Linked DNA regions of Homo sapiens: region 2 is linked to region 1. Evidence: fine-mapped expression QTL. Tissue or cell type: lymphoblastoid cells. Region 1 holds a variant in brackets; the other region holds the start of a gene. All regions are shown on one strand. Distances are between the middles of the regions.

The links. PIP is the estimated chance that this variant, and not a neighbour inherited with it, causes the effect.
Region 2: it holds the start of TAPT1-AS1, and the variant in region 1 is fine-mapped to the expression of TAPT1-AS1 in lymphoblastoid cells (GTEx, PIP above 0.99).

What each region holds. Positions count from the first base shown.
Region 1 is chr4:16,348,738-16,356,919 of GRCh38, forward strand. LOC124900674 (a long non-coding RNA gene) reads left to right here. Exons shown (of 5, transcript XR_007058064.1): 5 at 6,883-8,182. Among named protein-coding and RNA genes, the nearest start is that of TAPT1-AS1, 130 kb to the left of the region's middle. The variant G/A (reference allele first, on the strand shown) is at 3,248.
Region 2 is chr4:16,222,296-16,230,477 of GRCh38, forward strand. It overlaps TAPT1-AS1 (TAPT1 antisense RNA 1), which reads left to right and starts at 4,368. Exons shown (of 3, transcript NR_027697.1): 1 at 4,368-4,882. It overlaps TAPT1 (transmembrane anterior posterior transformation 1), which reads right to left and starts at 4,176. Exons shown (of 14, transcript NM_153365.3): 1 at 3,964-4,176. The coding sequence starts at 4,162. RefSeq lists silencers at 3,729-4,108, 4,219-4,268, 4,279-4,378, 4,389-4,458, 4,519-4,718 and an enhancer at 5,229-5,288.

The sequences.
Region 1 (8,182 bases):
ACCCTGCTCTATTTCCACTTTCCTTATCACAACATTGATCCCCTCTTCCTTCCATCACTTCCCCACCTAGCCAATCTGAGCAAAGGGCACTACCATTCATCATTCATTCACCCAGTTGCTCAAGATAAAAACATAATGGTCATTCTTACTTCCTTTCTTTCCAACATGCCTTTTATTCATTCCAGCAGTATGCCTTGCCAGCTCCATCTCCAAGTTACCCTGTCACTACCTCTTTTCAAGTCAGTCTTGGCCATGATCATACAAGCCAGCAGCATTTCTCTCTTGCACTTCCTTAAAATTCTTCCTTCTGCTAACACTTTGGCTCTCTCTCTTTGCATTCCATTGTTCACCCAGCTGCCAAGGTAGTATTTTGCAAACTCCAAAGAGATCACACCTTTCCCCTGCTTAAAATCCCCCATCTATGGCCAGGTGCAGTGGCTCAAGCCTGTAATCCCAGCAGTTTGAGAGGCCAAGGCGGGTAGATCACGAGGTCAGAAGTTTGAGACCAGCCTGGCCAATATGGTGAAACCCTGTCTCTACTAAAAATACAAAAATTAGCCGGGTGTGATGGTGTGCACCTCCCAGCTACTCGGGAGGCTGAGGCAGAAGAATCACTTGAACCTGGGAGGTGGAGGTTGCAGTGAGCCAAGATCATGCTACTGCACTCCAGCCTGGGCAACAGAGCGAGACTCCGTCTCAAAAAACCAAACCAAACCAAACCAAAACAAAAAAAACCCCGTCTCCCTTAGAAGAAATGCTTCTTTTGGTTTCCAAGGCCCTATGTGTTCTGCCCTCTGTTTGTCTCTCAGACTTTGCTCCTGTTCCTCCCTCCCCTGATTCACTGTTCCAGACCTCTTTGCCTTCTTGCTGTTTCTTACTCCTCTGTCTGCCTGGACTACTCTTTCCCCAGTGACTCCCATGACTTGCTTCTCCTGATAATCCTCATCTCTTCTCATTCAGGCAATGTCACTTAGAATATACTGGTAAGCAATGAGGGATTTGGAGTCAGATTTCTTGGATTAAAATTCAACAATTTTCAGCAAGGGACATTAGATAAGTTTCTTAAATTACCTTTGCCTCAGTTTCCCTCAACAACTTTAAAGTTTGTAAGTACTTAGCAGGGGGCTTGTCCGTGGTAAATCATATGCAAATGTGGCTCATTATAATTTTCTTAACTTAACTCTTCAGAGAGACTTCCTCGATCACTCAGTGTAAAAAGGTAGCCCCAAGTCTCTCTATCACATCAGTCTGTTTTTAATTCTTTGTAAAACCTATAGCATTACCCTGTTTGTTCATTTATGTGTTGCTTCCTCCTCCTAGAATTGAGCTCGAGAGACCAGAAGGTGTGTTCCTGCTGTATCTTCAGCATCTGGAACAGGTCTAGCACCTGGTAGCATTTCAATTGGTAATACACACACAGGTGTGCCATTGACCTTGGAATAAAATCCAGACTCCCAGCTCCATCCTACAAGGCGGATATTGTCTCCTCTTTGTCTTTCTGACCCCATCTCTAACCTCCCTTCTCTTTCCTCGTGAGGCCTCTTCCTTAGCATGAGTTTCTTCCCACAGGATTCTTTTGAGCACCTTGCAAATAAAGTTCTCAGACTTTCCTCAAAAGACCTAATATTACTCCTAATTTTTCTGAATTTGCAGCCAGCACCCATCTTAGGTCTTTTGCTATGGATTCCACTCTTCTGGATGTTACCACTTCCTCTTTGAGTCCATGTCTGCACTTTTATTTAGTTCCCATGTTACATAGTTCCTGTCTGCTAGCCTCTCTCCTCCATTCTAGAATCCCACTTCAAGGGAGTTGAACAGCACCATGCTGTTTGGTTACAAATTGAATTTTAGGGACATTGTAAATAATGTTAACATACTGCCTGGATAGTCTTGTCTCTTTGTCCTTTATACACGGATTATGGTTGACAACTCACCATTGACACAGTCCATGATTCCAATTCTTCTTTTTAAAAACTAATTATCATTCTATTTCTGGGCAAGACCCCCAACCAGGGAGGTAAACAACTAAATCATTATGATTTTACATGTCTACAGAGAGAGATAAAATGATATAATAGGAGAATAATTAAAAAGCTATTGTGTTAGTTAATTATAACTTTAAAATAATTTATTCTTTAGAGGAAATAAAAAGAAATAAATGGAAATCCTAAAAATTATGGCACACTATGTAAACAGATCTCTTTGATGACACTTAAATGTAGATACTCCTTTTAAAAATTGGGTTCTGATTTTGAATACACTTGGAATTTCATGCCTGGTTCCAGATTAATAATGATAGAATAAAATTCTTTAGTATTTAACACGTTACTGTGACACAGCGCTTCCTTATAATTTTGGGAAGTTTAAGGCCAAACTGAAATAGTAAGAGCATTAACCCAATTCTTTGAGAAAAAAAAGAAAAAACTGGAATAAAAAATAATTAAGTCCCCTTTGCCTCCTAATGAACTGGCATGCAACTGTATCCAATTTCCCTCTGCTTTTCCTTTGATCTCTTTAAGCTCTCCCTTGGTCAAACCTCTTCTGTTTGAATTGCACTAATTTGTAACTCGGCTTCTTCCATCTGGGGATACAGATTTGTGCAGACCCATTCCACGCTGGGCTAAATGCGTTCAACACCTGGCTGAACATATTGGTTTCAGTGTATTTACCCAAATTGTTAGTAAAACATCAGAAACAGTCGGCTCCTGCTTATCAAATTGCAAACGGGGTCCCTATCACTTAACGCTAATACAATTTAGACTCGAAGTTCACAAACAGATGCACGGCATTTCCAATCATATCAGCTGCAGCCTCTGGAATCCCAGATTTGGTGTCTAAAACATCCACAGAGAGGGAGAGAAATAAGGGCAGTAATTCAGTTGGTCTCAGCCTTGTGTTTCATACATATTCTGCAGATAATCTTTTGACTCTTCCTTTTTGTCTCCTTTTAACGTCCGCAAATCCTTTGACTAGGGCTATGTCCCGAGTGCTATAGCCACTCTTATTTCCTGTGGTCTTTTCAAATCCATTCTTTTTAGCTCCCTCTGTTTGGTTGAAGGATTAGAGCTTCTTAGCCTTGAAGCCAATTTTGGAATGCAGATTGAGGGTCAATGGTGAAGAAACCGTTTCCTCCTTCCATTCTTGTCTTGAAGTATCCTTTTTGACTTACATGTCTAGAAACCAACAAAAGCCCTCTATTATTATGGTAGTTGGAAAATGGCCCAGTTCCAGCCCAATCCTTTGCAGC[G/A]AAGAGGTCCTTCCCCCCATTCTTGCCTTCTGCTTTAGCATTCATTATTGTGATGCCTTGTTTACTTACATTTCTATCTGGTGATAATAGGCTTTTCAGCCTTTGGGCTTCAAGGTCCCTGGCTGCAGAAGGAAGGCCAAGAAAAAGAGAGAAAATATGGGATGGCTGGGGAACTTGCCCTGCGACTGGCTTCTCTTTGTCGATTCTGAACACTGATGATCAACTCATTGTGTCCTACTCATCTCTCTTAAAAAATTAGAATCTGTGAATGAACCAGTTTGTTTTCGTAGTTCAGTGTCTGGGTGGGGTTTCAGAGCCATGAGCAAAGTTAGTCGCTTGTTATCCCTTCTAAGGAGTGGATGTGGTGGCCCCAGGATGGAAAGAACCTACTCTATGCTGCTGTAGGAATGGATCTATAGCTGGCCCTGCCATCTCTTATGACACAGAAGAGACCTCTCTCCTCCCACACACAGGTAGGAACAGAGTCCACCCCTTCTGCAGCCCCCCACTACCCAGTGGACACAGCAGCCTTAGGAAATCAACTCTCATGTTTCAACACAGCCAAGATTTTCCAAGGAATAGATTGCAATTGTGTCTGTGGTTATGGGTCAGGATTTGTGTGCTTTATATGTCATTTGTGTAGCCAGGGAGGTAATTTTTATAGTATCCATCAATTTATTTATCCATTTACTACTTAGCCATTCCTTCATGTGTTCATTTACCAGTCCTCACGCTGGAGCGCTCACCACCTTCTGGGTCCTGCACTGGGTCCTGACAGTAGATGCTTACTAAATAATGAGCAATAGATGAATAAGAAAGTGGAAACAAGGCTGGGGAATGTCCCACAACAATTCATAACCAGGAGACATCAGTCACAATCCTGACTAGGGTGGTGAAAGGGTAAGGGGGTGTAAAGGGTCAAATAATTCAACAATTAGCCAATAAAATATTTTGTTGAAAGCAGACTTCTGTGTACTCCATCAATGATGAGAATTGAAAGAGGTTGTCTTAGGAAAGGGGTGAGGTGATACTGGGATGGCAAAGTCAAATCCCAGATGAAAGGCTTGGCTATGGTGGCCCCTTAGATACAGTGGGCCCATTTTAGAGAGGTCCTCTGTGTATCTTAGATGTGTATCCTTTTTCTTATTTTTCCCCATCAAGGAATCCATTTCCTTTAGGAAGCCCATCCCTTAGGAGACTTGATGACAGTGGACAGAGACTTGATGACATTACAGACCCTGAAATTCAGATTCTGACTTTCCTAGCTTCCATGCAGCCAATGCTTTGGTATGTGCCTTGGACTCGGGTAATCAGATACAGGTGCCTTAGGCTGTGAATTGTGAGCTACCGATGCGAAGAAAAGCAGATAATTCATTCTGGTAGCACGTGGCAACAGCTACAACAGCAGCATCCAGCTTCTAGAGGAGCAGTGGCCATGGTGATGGTTTCACTGTCTGCATCTATCAGGCAGTACTGGTGGTGCACCCTGCCATGCCTCATCTCAGCAATGACACAGTGTTGTCCTCCCGCAAGGAAGTTGAATTTTGCCATTTTCCCTACAAGCACAGCCTCTGAAGCTGGTTTCCCAATATTCCTTCAGCTCTAAAGAATCCAGTATCCTAATGGTAGAGCAGTTTATGGTTTAAATTTGCCAGTGGTTTTCTGTTGCATAAAATAATCTATCGCCCAAGTTTATTCTCTTGAAGTGACATCCAAATTTGCATAATCCCATTCAAAATCTTACTTTTAATCTTTAATTTTGTTTTTAATTAACTTTTTATTTTGTAAAAACAACTGTAGCAAAGTTGCAAGAACCTACCCTTCATCTAGATTTACCTACTGTTAACATTTGTGCCACATGTTTGCTCTATCTTCCTCTCTACACACAAATGTGCTCACATTGTTATTCCTTTCACTATTCTTATTTTTATCTTTTGCTGAACCATTTGTGGAGATCTTACATTTCACTCCAAATATTTCAATGTCACTACCCTAAAGAAAGTGACATTTTCCAATATAATCACAATGCAATTATCAAACTCAGGAAGTTTACATTTATTAAAACTGATATCCAATATATAGTCTGCATTCAAATGTTGTTAATTGTCCCAATGCTGCCTTTTTGGCTATGATTTTTCTCCCTAATCCAGAATCCAATTCAGGATTATGCATTGCTTGTAGTCATTATGTCTATTTGGCCTTCTTTCTCTCTCTCTTTTTTTTAATGACATTGACATTTTTGTAGGGTACAGTCTGTTGTTTTGTAGAATGTCTGTTAATTTGTGTTTTTCTGGCTGTTTCCTCTCAGTTTGATTTAGGTTATGTGTTCCCAAGTCTTTCACAAATCCCTTGAATGTGCAACCTGTGTCTCAAATCTCTGACAACATTGAATCTGTAATTTCATTTGCTAAAGTAGGGCTGAGATGGTAATTCTATTCTGTTTGGTTGGATAAGTGACTTTGTAACTACAGGAAAGTACAAAATATAAGCATAGAGATGATAAAAAATAAATTTGGTGTTTAAAACTTCATGTAAATTGTGATTATACAAGTGTAATGAAAACTTTTGTATTCATTGTGTTGTTTGGATAAACTTGGTAGGATGTTTGAAACATTTAAGATATAATGACATTCTAGAGAATCTGGCTTAAGATTTTAATTTAAATTGTAAGATGGTTTTATTTAATTACATTTGCTTAAAGCTTAAGAGAACTGAAGTTACCAAATTTATATATTGCTTTTGAAGATATTGAAATGCTTACCTGTATCTGATCTACTAATTTGATAAATTCATATTTATTAAAGTTGGAAGAGTTAGCTTGAGAAAATAAAATATATTCAATTTATGATCATAGTTTGACATGTTTAAGGAAACTTAATTAAGTTTTAGATAGTATGAGAGATTTTAATTTGTTGTTTATAAGCTTTATGACTTTAATTTGATATGTCTGAAAAAATTTGTTGAAGTTTGAAAATAATGCTTAGGAAAAATTAATCTGTGAAATTTATGCTATAAATTAGCAGAAATTAAAGAATGAGAATGTTTTTAATTTTCACTCCCAATTGTTAAATTTATAAGCAAATATACTGGACTTGAAAGTTGAATTTAAAGGCTAAAGGAATGACAGATTTTAAAATTTAAAAAAGTAAGTAAATTACTATCAATAAAAACCCAAGTCATGGTAATTTTTTTTTTTCTATACACCAATCCTCCTTTGGATGTTAAAAAAACCAGTTGATAAGTTCTGGGTACACAGTTCCTGATATATTATTAAGTCATAGAAAAGATAGACAGATGGACACAAAATCGTGGTACAAAATTCTGAATGCAATGGAAGAGGCAGACCCAGCGGGTTGGAGAAGGCACCTATTGGATCTCAGGGTGGAATAGGATCAGAGAATGCTCCAGGGGTGAACAGGAGTTTATTAGCCAAAGAGGAATGGAATGGCTTTCCCAGCATGAGTTGGAGAATTGAAACAGTGCTAGGGAGAGGGAGGTATGGAAGGCGAGAGATGTTGTGCTTGACAAGATCTAATCAGGTCTCAGCATTGCATAAGGCTGTGAGAAATTTTTTCAAGTGATTTATTTATTTATTGAGTGCCCACTGTGTGCCAGCATCTGTGTTTCTCTTTCAGGGCAAAGACATGGAAGATACGGGCCCTCACTGTATAGTAGCTATATCAGTCTTCTTGGGCTGCCCCAAGTCTCTGGTCTTGGATGTTTCTGGTTGTCTGGCTGGACGGCTTAAACAACAGGAGTTAATTTTCTTACAGTTTTGGAGGCTGGAAACCCAAGATCAAGGTACCAACACGGTTGATTTTTAGATCAAGGTGCCAACAAAGGTTGGCCTCTCTCCTTGGGTTGCAGATGGCAACTGTCTCACTGTGTTCTCATATGGTCTTACCCCTGTGCACATGCAGAAAGAGAACGAGAGAGAGAGAGCACAAGCGAGCTCTGGTGCCTCCTCCTCTTCTGAAAAGTATACCAACTCTATTGATTTAAGGCCTTTCTCTAATAACCTAATTTAACATTAATTACCTCCCTAAAGGTCCTATCTCAAAATATAGAACCTATGAATTTTGAGGGCATACAGTTAAATCCATAACATTAGCATTCGTTATCTCGTACTCAAGTGAGTCAGTTTATCGATATGTCTACATGACAAGGCTGACAGTGCCGTCAGAACTGGAGCACAGACTTACGTTGTTTTTTGTATCTCCAACACTTGGCATGAAGCCTAAAACATAGGAAGCACTAGATAAAAGCCAATTATGTGAGTAAAAGAAATTACTAAATGAATAAATGATGGCAACTAAACCCAGCATGACAATTCAGTATGATATGGTTTAAACTTTTATTCAACAATATTATCTGGGGCCCATTGTGTCCCATGCTTTCTAGAACCTTTGAAATATCAGTAAACAAAACCATTAAAACTCTCTGTCATTTAGGTAAAATTCCTTAGGAGCTGCTGAAACAGGTATCTTTGTTCAAGTAATTTTTTCCAGGAAATGGTCGTAGAAGAGGGGAATGAAGGAAGCAGAATAGGGAGGGAATAAAAGCTAAGTAAGAATGGGGCCTCAACTGGAGGCTAGCCTTAGTTTGTTCCCATGGGGAAGCTCTGAAGCACAAATAACATAGCAGAGTTAGTCTTACCTTGAGTCAAGGGGTGCTTAGTCTTTTGTACACCCATGTCAGTCAGTCATTAGCTGAGGTCTTTCCTCCAGAGGATATAGGATATAGTTCCACAGGACGATGGTTGTTGTATTTGCCCATTTATAGGACGTAGAACTATCAAGATATTCTGAAAGATCACCTTCATGCCAGCAATTTTTTGGCCCCATGATTAAGGAGCAGTTCTATATCCTCATGAGGACAGTGGTCTATTATCCCCACTGTTATATAATGTCTGCTTTCTGTGACTGCTCGTCTATT
Region 2 (8,182 bases), 130 kb before region 1:
TGTTCGTTTGGTCTATATATACTAATTAAGTAAAGCAAGTGAGAATTTTAAAAGCAAAGCAATAGTTTGTCAGAAGTAGCTAATTTTACTTTGTATCTGGTTTGTGGTTACTCCAAGTAATTTCCCGGTTTTATTATTTTTATTTTTCTTTGTGAACAAATTAATTGGCTCTAGATCATAATTTTAGAATCAGTCACCCTTTAATCATCCATTTGGTTAAGTTTGGGGCCACTGGGATAACTATGTGATATAGGTGAAGACTGGTTAAATGAAAACATATTTTAATAAAAATGTATTTGTAAGAAGAAACTGACAAATTTTCAGTTACACAAAGAATAAGACATAGGTAATATGAATAGTTAAAACCTTCGTCCCACTCGAAATCTTTTAAGGGTATTGCTAAAAATTCAGTTGACTTTTCTGGGTTTCATTCTTCCTGCCTCTGCTCAATCTCTAACAGAGGTGAAGCAAGAAGAGGTCTAACCATGGTTAAAGGGAGAGGAGAGAGGCAAAAGAGATGGATAATAAGTTGAAGTTTTAGAAGTCCAGAGTCACTGTTAAAGAAGAAAGAAATGGGTCCATGGCACTGTTACCAGTAGAAACAATATGTTCACCTATACCCGACTTCAGGCTTTCTTGTTTTACAAGCAATACCTATCCCCATGCATCTCCAACACCTGCATTACACAGGTACTGTTTCACCTGTGCTACCCTCACAGGTGCTACCCTTATTTACACCAAGCCTTCTGTTAAGTCTCCATGGTGACTAGAAGCAACCTAGATGCTTCAGATACTGAACTATCTAGTAGTGGCATTATGAAACAGAACCAAACTGATTAGGCAAGCAGTCTAAGCAAGCACAGAGTTTACAAAGCAATTCAACAACCCAACCAAGCCAAAAACACAGATTTCCTAATGCTTAGTCCAAAGTTGATTTGCTGTACTTAGATTCCTAAATAAAAATATGGCTATACAGAAACTCTCCTACCTAGGACTTCTGCAGATGAATCAAGTGGGGAACAAGCACAAAAACATAACATTGATTATTTGGTTTTATGTCAAAAGGAACAACAGAAGTTGGTAGTATTTTCAAGGACAGGAAGAAAATACAGAAGAGATCAATCTGCAGTTCTTGATAACCACTACATCCAGAGTTCAAGGCCAGTAACCACATATGCAACAAGGAAATACACAATGACCATTCTGAGAGAGCAAATAAAAACAGGAATGATGAGTGGGATTCCCAATTCTAACTATGTTAAAAGGTGTAAGTACTCGCATCTGAGACATGCGTCAGCCTATTGCCAGGCTAAATATAAGTCAGAACGGGAGTTCTGAGAACGAAGTGATGAGGAAAAGAAAGCTTAGACTTAATGGAGACACATGTTTAGTATAATACAATATAGAGCATATACAGCTATTCATACAGACAAATATACATATCTAGTTTCTAAACATATAAATCAACAAGGAGAGATATAAAACAAAAAATGAACCTCAGACACCACGTTTTATTTTATTCAGATGGAAAGAGTTTGGATAAGTACCTAATATGTACATTCATTTAGGGAATTCTAGGCTGTTGGGACTGATCAACAAATGTCTTACCTGTAGGAGCCCTAAATTCCTTGTGAGAAATGATAAAGGGAACTTTGGAACTGACTGATGGTTCAGCCACCAAGACACTAAGATTATGACTTTCAAAAAGAAAAGCCAAAGGTTGCCTTAACTTGCAGGGGGATCTAGATCTCAAGGGCAGTGGTGCTAGACTCTCAGAGGCACACAAGAATATAAAAAAATCAACAAGTAATACCTTAAGTCCGAGCATCTAGCCGTGGAGGACTAGTTTGATTCAGGGAGAAATGCTATCCAAATGACTCCAGGTGCTGCCACTCAAAGGCCCTCTGACCCAGGCCAGCTCCTAGGGAATCGTTTTTAAAAATTCTTAAAAGGAGGGGAAGGAAGGATTACAGAGCAGGGGAAGAGGGCAGCGCTAGACTTAGCAGCCTGGGCATTGAAGAAGGACTAAAATAATTGTTTCTAGTGGGGAAACCTCTAACAAATATGGTTATCGGAGCTACAGACTGGGTGCTAGCAGTGGCAGGAGCTATGTGACTAGCAGAGCAGGGACACCAGGGGAAAAGAAGGAGGGGCTTATGTGGAGGCTCAGAGAGAACACTGGCCAGTGGCTCCAGCTGAAATACTCCTGGAATTTGGAATTCTCACCTAAATCCTGATCGCCAAGGCTAGTGTGACTTGGTAAAGCAGGAGTGGCCACTGACATCTCCTCACACAAAATCAATGGAACTGGGGAAAGAACAAGGACTACCCCAACAGCTAAACCTGGAGGCATCTCCCTGATAATGACTTCCTGCAACTATGGGTTAAAAAAAATCCAGCCTTAAACATGGTGAACCATGTTGGTGAAGAATGGATACGTGGTATAATGAAGTCCATGGAAGTCCAGGTATCCAGTCCCAGAAAAAGCCAGGGAAGAAGTGTTAAGTGATACTGCAAGCTCAAGATCTGTGCTCATCAATAGGCTTCAAACAACTTCATTTCCTCTCCACGCAAACAACAAAAAAAGGCTTTTAAAATGGTGGCTTTCCTGCAACTGAGAAATGTTTTAAAGAAAGTATAGTGAAGCCTGGCTACATCTATCTCTATTTACAACAGAGTGCTTTTAATATTCAAGTCTAAGTAAGTAAACAGACAGTTGAGAGATTTGCTATTTTGTCTTACTGAGATCCTGCCAATGAAGAAAGTAAATACTCTTGAAAGCAAATGTTTAACTGAGAACTAAACCAAATAAAGTATGGTTGAGAATTTTTAAGTGGTTAATTGAAAAAGACCAAACAAGACCGTCTGTAATTTTCCAAAAATATAGACTGCTTCAAATAGAACCTACGTCCAGTTCTGGGAATCAGCAAATCAATTAGAATCGCATCTGATCAACTTTATGCCCCTTAAGTAGTTTTAAAATTTCAGTACTCAAGTACAATCAATGATGTAATCAGCCTCACAACTTAGTTATTTGCATGAACTTCAGGAAATAACGGCTAACACAGCCCCTTTTGGACAACAGAAGTAATTTTTTAGTTGGAAGAAATTTAATGGAGTTATGGTTCAGTTGCTGTTTACAGCTTGAGAATTAAAACGTTGGGTTCACTCTATATTCAAGAAGACATCCATCTCAAAACCTTTTTTCATTTAAAACTAATCTGTAACTGCAATATGAATACAAATGCAAGTTTTAAAAATTCTTTTAAAATGAGAATAAAAACCTACAGCTTATAGAAACTGTAACATTGTAACAATACGTTTAAAACTGGTCATTGAATGTAGGATTCATAAGTACACATTTTCTCATCTAGTAATTTTTTTGGCATAAGTTTCAGTTCAGGAAAAGTTCAGATGCAACATTTTATGGAGTGTTAAATATTTCTGTACTGGGCAAAACTACTGAACTTCATGGTCACTACCACACCGTCAGCTGTCTGTGAAAAATCTACTTGCAGGGCAAGTTAACAGGTTTCTATGGCTCAAGTTTGCTTAAAATACAGAACAAAAAAAGTCACCTTGGCATGAATATAATTAAGAAATCAGCCGTGTGCTTCTCACGTTTGGGCTCCGAGACGTGGGAGATGCCCGCTAACCTAAGACCTTCCGAGGGCGATGCAAGGACCCGGACAGAACTTTCCCGGCCGCAGACCCCTTCTAGGGCACACCTGGCCTGGCGCGGCCGCGGGGGCCTCGGGGCTGCGCGCGCAACCCGCCCGAGGAACTGTCAACGGCCGCGGAGCCTCGGCAGCCTCGGCGGCTCCGCGCGCCCACAGCCTGGGGAGCCCCGGGAGGCAACGGCAGCCGCGCGGCTCGGGGGCCGGGGTTCCAAGGCGCCCCCGCCGCCCTCGGTCCCCAGTCCGCCCCTCGGAGCCCGCCACGGCCTAGCGCCGCCCGCCTCACCTGTGCGGCCCCGGCGCCTCTCCCGCCGCCGGTCGCTCTCGTAGAAGCCCAGCGTCTCTGTGAGCTGAGGCGCCGGCGGGGGCCCCTGTCCGCCGCTGCCGCCCGGCTGCTCCGCCTCGCCGCGGCCGTCCCGCTGCGGGCCGTCCACGCCGCCACCGCCGCCTTCTCCCGGAGCGGCCGCGTCGCCGACGCCCGCCATGTTCCGAGCACAACAAACTGTCCCCGCCGCCTCCCTCCAGCCTCTGCCTCCGGCCGGCCCCCTCCCCGCCTCGCCCCGCCCCTCGCCGGAGCCCGAGCCGCCGCCGCCGCCGCCGCCATCCGCGGCCCGCCGACCGGCGCGAGCCATTGGCGTCAGCGACGCGTGTGAGGCCGCTGCCGCCGCCGCCGCCGCCACGGTAGCCGCCATCTTCTTCCTGCCCTCGCCGTGGCGGGCGACGGTTTCTCGCGCCGTGGCTGGCTCGGCCGGCCGGGGCACCGCGCCGGGCTCCATGCAGCCGGGCTGCGCGGTCCCGCAGAGCGGGCGCCTCCGGGGCTCGAGTCGGGGACCCGGCAGGAGCGGGCCGGGGATGGCGGCGGCGGGCGGCGGGTCGGCCGTGGAGCCCCGGAGAGGCGGCCGCCACCACCGCTGCCCGCAGTCTGCGAGGTGTCCGGCGGTCCGCTCAGGGCCTCTTTTGCAGACTCGGTGCCCGGAGTGCGCCGGCGCCGCCCGCCAGGTCTTGGCACTGCTGGCGCGGCCGCGGCGGCGGGGGCCCGGCTCCAGATCACCGACCCCCACGAGCGCCGGCCCTGCCTGCCCGCTATTTTGGTTCCATCTCTTCTGCATATTTATGCTTGCCTGTTACATTCCCTGGCCTCTGAGTGTCCTTTGGCAGTTTCCAAAGCATTTGGGCAAGAAGGAGCTTGGGCAGCTTCACAACAGGTGGGGACGCGCAGGGGAGGGGCCGCGGCCGGACCGGCAGAGTTTCAAGGGCTGGCGCGCCGGCGGACTTTCCACACTGTCTTTCGGGACTGGGGTTAGGAGACAGCCCTTGGCCACCACTGTGTCCTTACTTTGTCGCTTTACTTGGGGCTGGACCTCCCCTTTCCAGCTCTGGCGTGTGACCCCGCAACGAGCGTGGTGTCGAGACCACCACCAGCTGGGGCGGTGGGAGCGAAGGTGCCCCAGGCTCGGGGAAGGTGGAAACCTTTTCCCCGCTCCCCAAGTGATTGTTGCGCGCTCCGGTGAGGGGACAGTGGTACCTCGATTTCCCGTGTGCCAGCTTCGGGACTCAGCTGTGCTTTTGTGTCTCTTTGATTAGCAAAAGCAAAACGAATTCCTCCCCGAACACTAAGCTTCCTGGAAACTTCCCTAGACCTAAACTTGAGAACCGCATATAAATGGGCCTTGAGGGTTCTGTCGTCAGTAGCGGGTTACGTGATTGCAAACGAGCAAGTTTAAAACGGAGTGGGCTTTGGGCTGCAGAGCCGCCTGGCATTCTGACAGCTGAGCAGGAGGCAGAGGTGAGAGTCCAAGATGGACTAAAAATGTCCCAGCAGCTGGGAGCCCAACCTCGGCCCAACCTCGTTGAAAGGAGGAACATTCGGTGCAGCCGTCGGAACCTTATTATTTATGAAAGGGGACAGCTCACAGGATTACATTTTTCTAAGCCAATCCTGTGACCATCCTCCATGAAATTCTCTATTTTGGTTGCATGTGGTCAAAACTGAGCCTCACTGAAACAATTGAAAACAAATACTCCCGACAAATCTTAAGAATCGTTTTGAAAATCAAAAGGTGGGGAAAATGTTGTGGCTTCTGAGCTTTCTTCAGCCCATATTCTATTATTCTCTGATGTTTTATGGTGTAAAATCATACCCATTCCATTATGTATTGATTGTCAAGAAGGAAGTAGGCTTTTATTGCTATTTTTATGTCAGTTTCCATTTACTGTCTCACCACATTTATTGGGTTATTGCCTTTGCCTTTGACTCAACAGGAGCTGGAAGGGTAGGAATCCCAAATTCTGTTGCCTAAGGCAGCCAGTTGTCAGAATGGACTTTCCTCATTTTCTATTATGAGGCCTGAGGAAAGACATTCAGTTCCAAAGGCTGTGCCTATCCTTTTAAATAGAAGAGAGAGGGCCCGGCACGGTGGCTCACGCCTGTAATCCCAGCAGTTTGGGAGGCCGAAGGGGGCGAATCACGAGGTCAGGAGTTCCAGACCAGCCTGGCCAACATAGTGAAACCCCGTGTCTACTAAAGATACAAATATTAGCCGGGCGTAATGGCGGGCGCCTGTATTCCCAGCTACTCGGGAGGCTGAGGCAGGAGAATGGCTTGAATCCGGGAGGCGGAGGTTGCAGTGAACCGAACCGAGATCGCGTCGCTGGACTCCAGCCCGGGCGACAGAGTGAGACTCCGTCCCAAAAAAAAAAAAAAAAAAAAAAAAAAAAAAAAAAAAAAAAAAAAGAAAAGAAGAAGAGGAAGCAGCCGTGCCAAAAAAAAAAAAAAAAAGAAGAGGAAGCAGCCGTGCCGAGGCTAGGTACTGCCTAAAGAAGCGGGGGAACAAATTGGAAATGTGGGAATGCGAATGTGGGCAAGTTGAGGAACTTGTAGCTTCTCGTCGGTTGAATCTTTTCACTGAAGCTGCTTTATTATATCTGACATGTGAAACTACACAATTTCAAACAAACCCATATTGAAGTCAACATACAAAAAAGCATTTAAAAAACAACCATTAGTAAAAATAATTTTTTCAGTTAACGCTATTCTTCCCTTGTATAGGTGTTGATAATCATATAATCAAATAGCTTATTGCATATGGAGAGTTGTTTTCTTTGAGTTAATTCAACGTATTGCAACTTAGTTAGAATCCAGGAAAATAGTATTTTCAAATGTGTATTTGGAATCTTCAAAATACTAGGTTACAAATTACCTTAAGAGATATTTATGCAGCATAGAAGAACCAGCAGTTCTCAGAGGAAGATAAATAGTTAAAATATCATAATGCACTTTATATCAGTTGTAAAAAGAAAAATACAGGCTTAGATTTATGGTATTACCGTTAGAAAAACAATATGAGTATTTAAGAAACATAGCAACCCTAGCCATTAAATAGGCATCAAATAACATTCTGAATTAAGTTATAAGATAAAACCAAGATTTGGATGACAATGACAATATTGTCCATCATTGTTATCCAAATCCTGGTTTTATCTTATAACTGGTTTTAGGGGCAATTGTAGTGAATTGCCCCTAAAAGATGTTTGAAATTCGTTTCATACACTTTTCCTGAATCAACTTAAGTATTGATTTCACAAACAATAAGATGGTGTGCCGTAGCATGTCATCGCACTAGAAAGAAAAAAAGTACTCCACCAGTGGGAAATAATTTCAGCAGAGGAAAGTGATGAATATTGGATGTGTGTTTAGAAATCAGAGGTTGATAAAGTCTTAAGATTGCTATATGCACTATGAGGCTAATGTATTTTGAAAATTGCAAAACAATATTTTTTAAACAACAAAAATTTGGTGAGTAGCATACGCAGACTTCAAAAATAAATTGCGTAACTTCATATTTCAGTAATTAAAGATTTAACAATAGTGATTTTGTGGCTAAACAAAATATACTGAACCCATTATGTATAAACCATGGATTCAGAGCTCCAGAAAATTATCTTAATGAGGCATATAAACTCTTTTTGTTTAATGTCCACACCAAATCATTATGGTCTGCCATTTCATGAAATAACAAGTTTTAAAATAAGTGATGTTTTTTAGTTTGTATATCTATATTCTTTTCTACCAGGTATAGCACAGTGTAGTACAAGGGCCTACAGTTACAAGCCTTGGGAAAGATACTGTTTTGGCCACATATTTCAGCTATGTGACCCTGGAAAGAGGGTCTCAGAGGGCCACTGTGGCCCTCAGTGTCTTTTCATTGGTAAATTGGGGCAACATCTTTTGTATAATGAAAGCTGAAAAAAATAACGATTTTCCTTTTATTCTCCCTTCCTTTCATTTAGGCTGTAGTTTTCACTTTTTAACTACAAAGCAATTTATCTCTTGATAACACTTCTAGTGTATTGTCCCTAAAGTACTTTTGAAAGTAGTTCTGTACACTTTTCCTGAGTAATAAAAACATCACATATTTGCTAACTTGAAAGAATCCCGAGTCAGGAGATGGCCTGGATTCTCTCTGACCCTTCAACTAAAGTCTTTGACCAAAGGAGCACAGGTG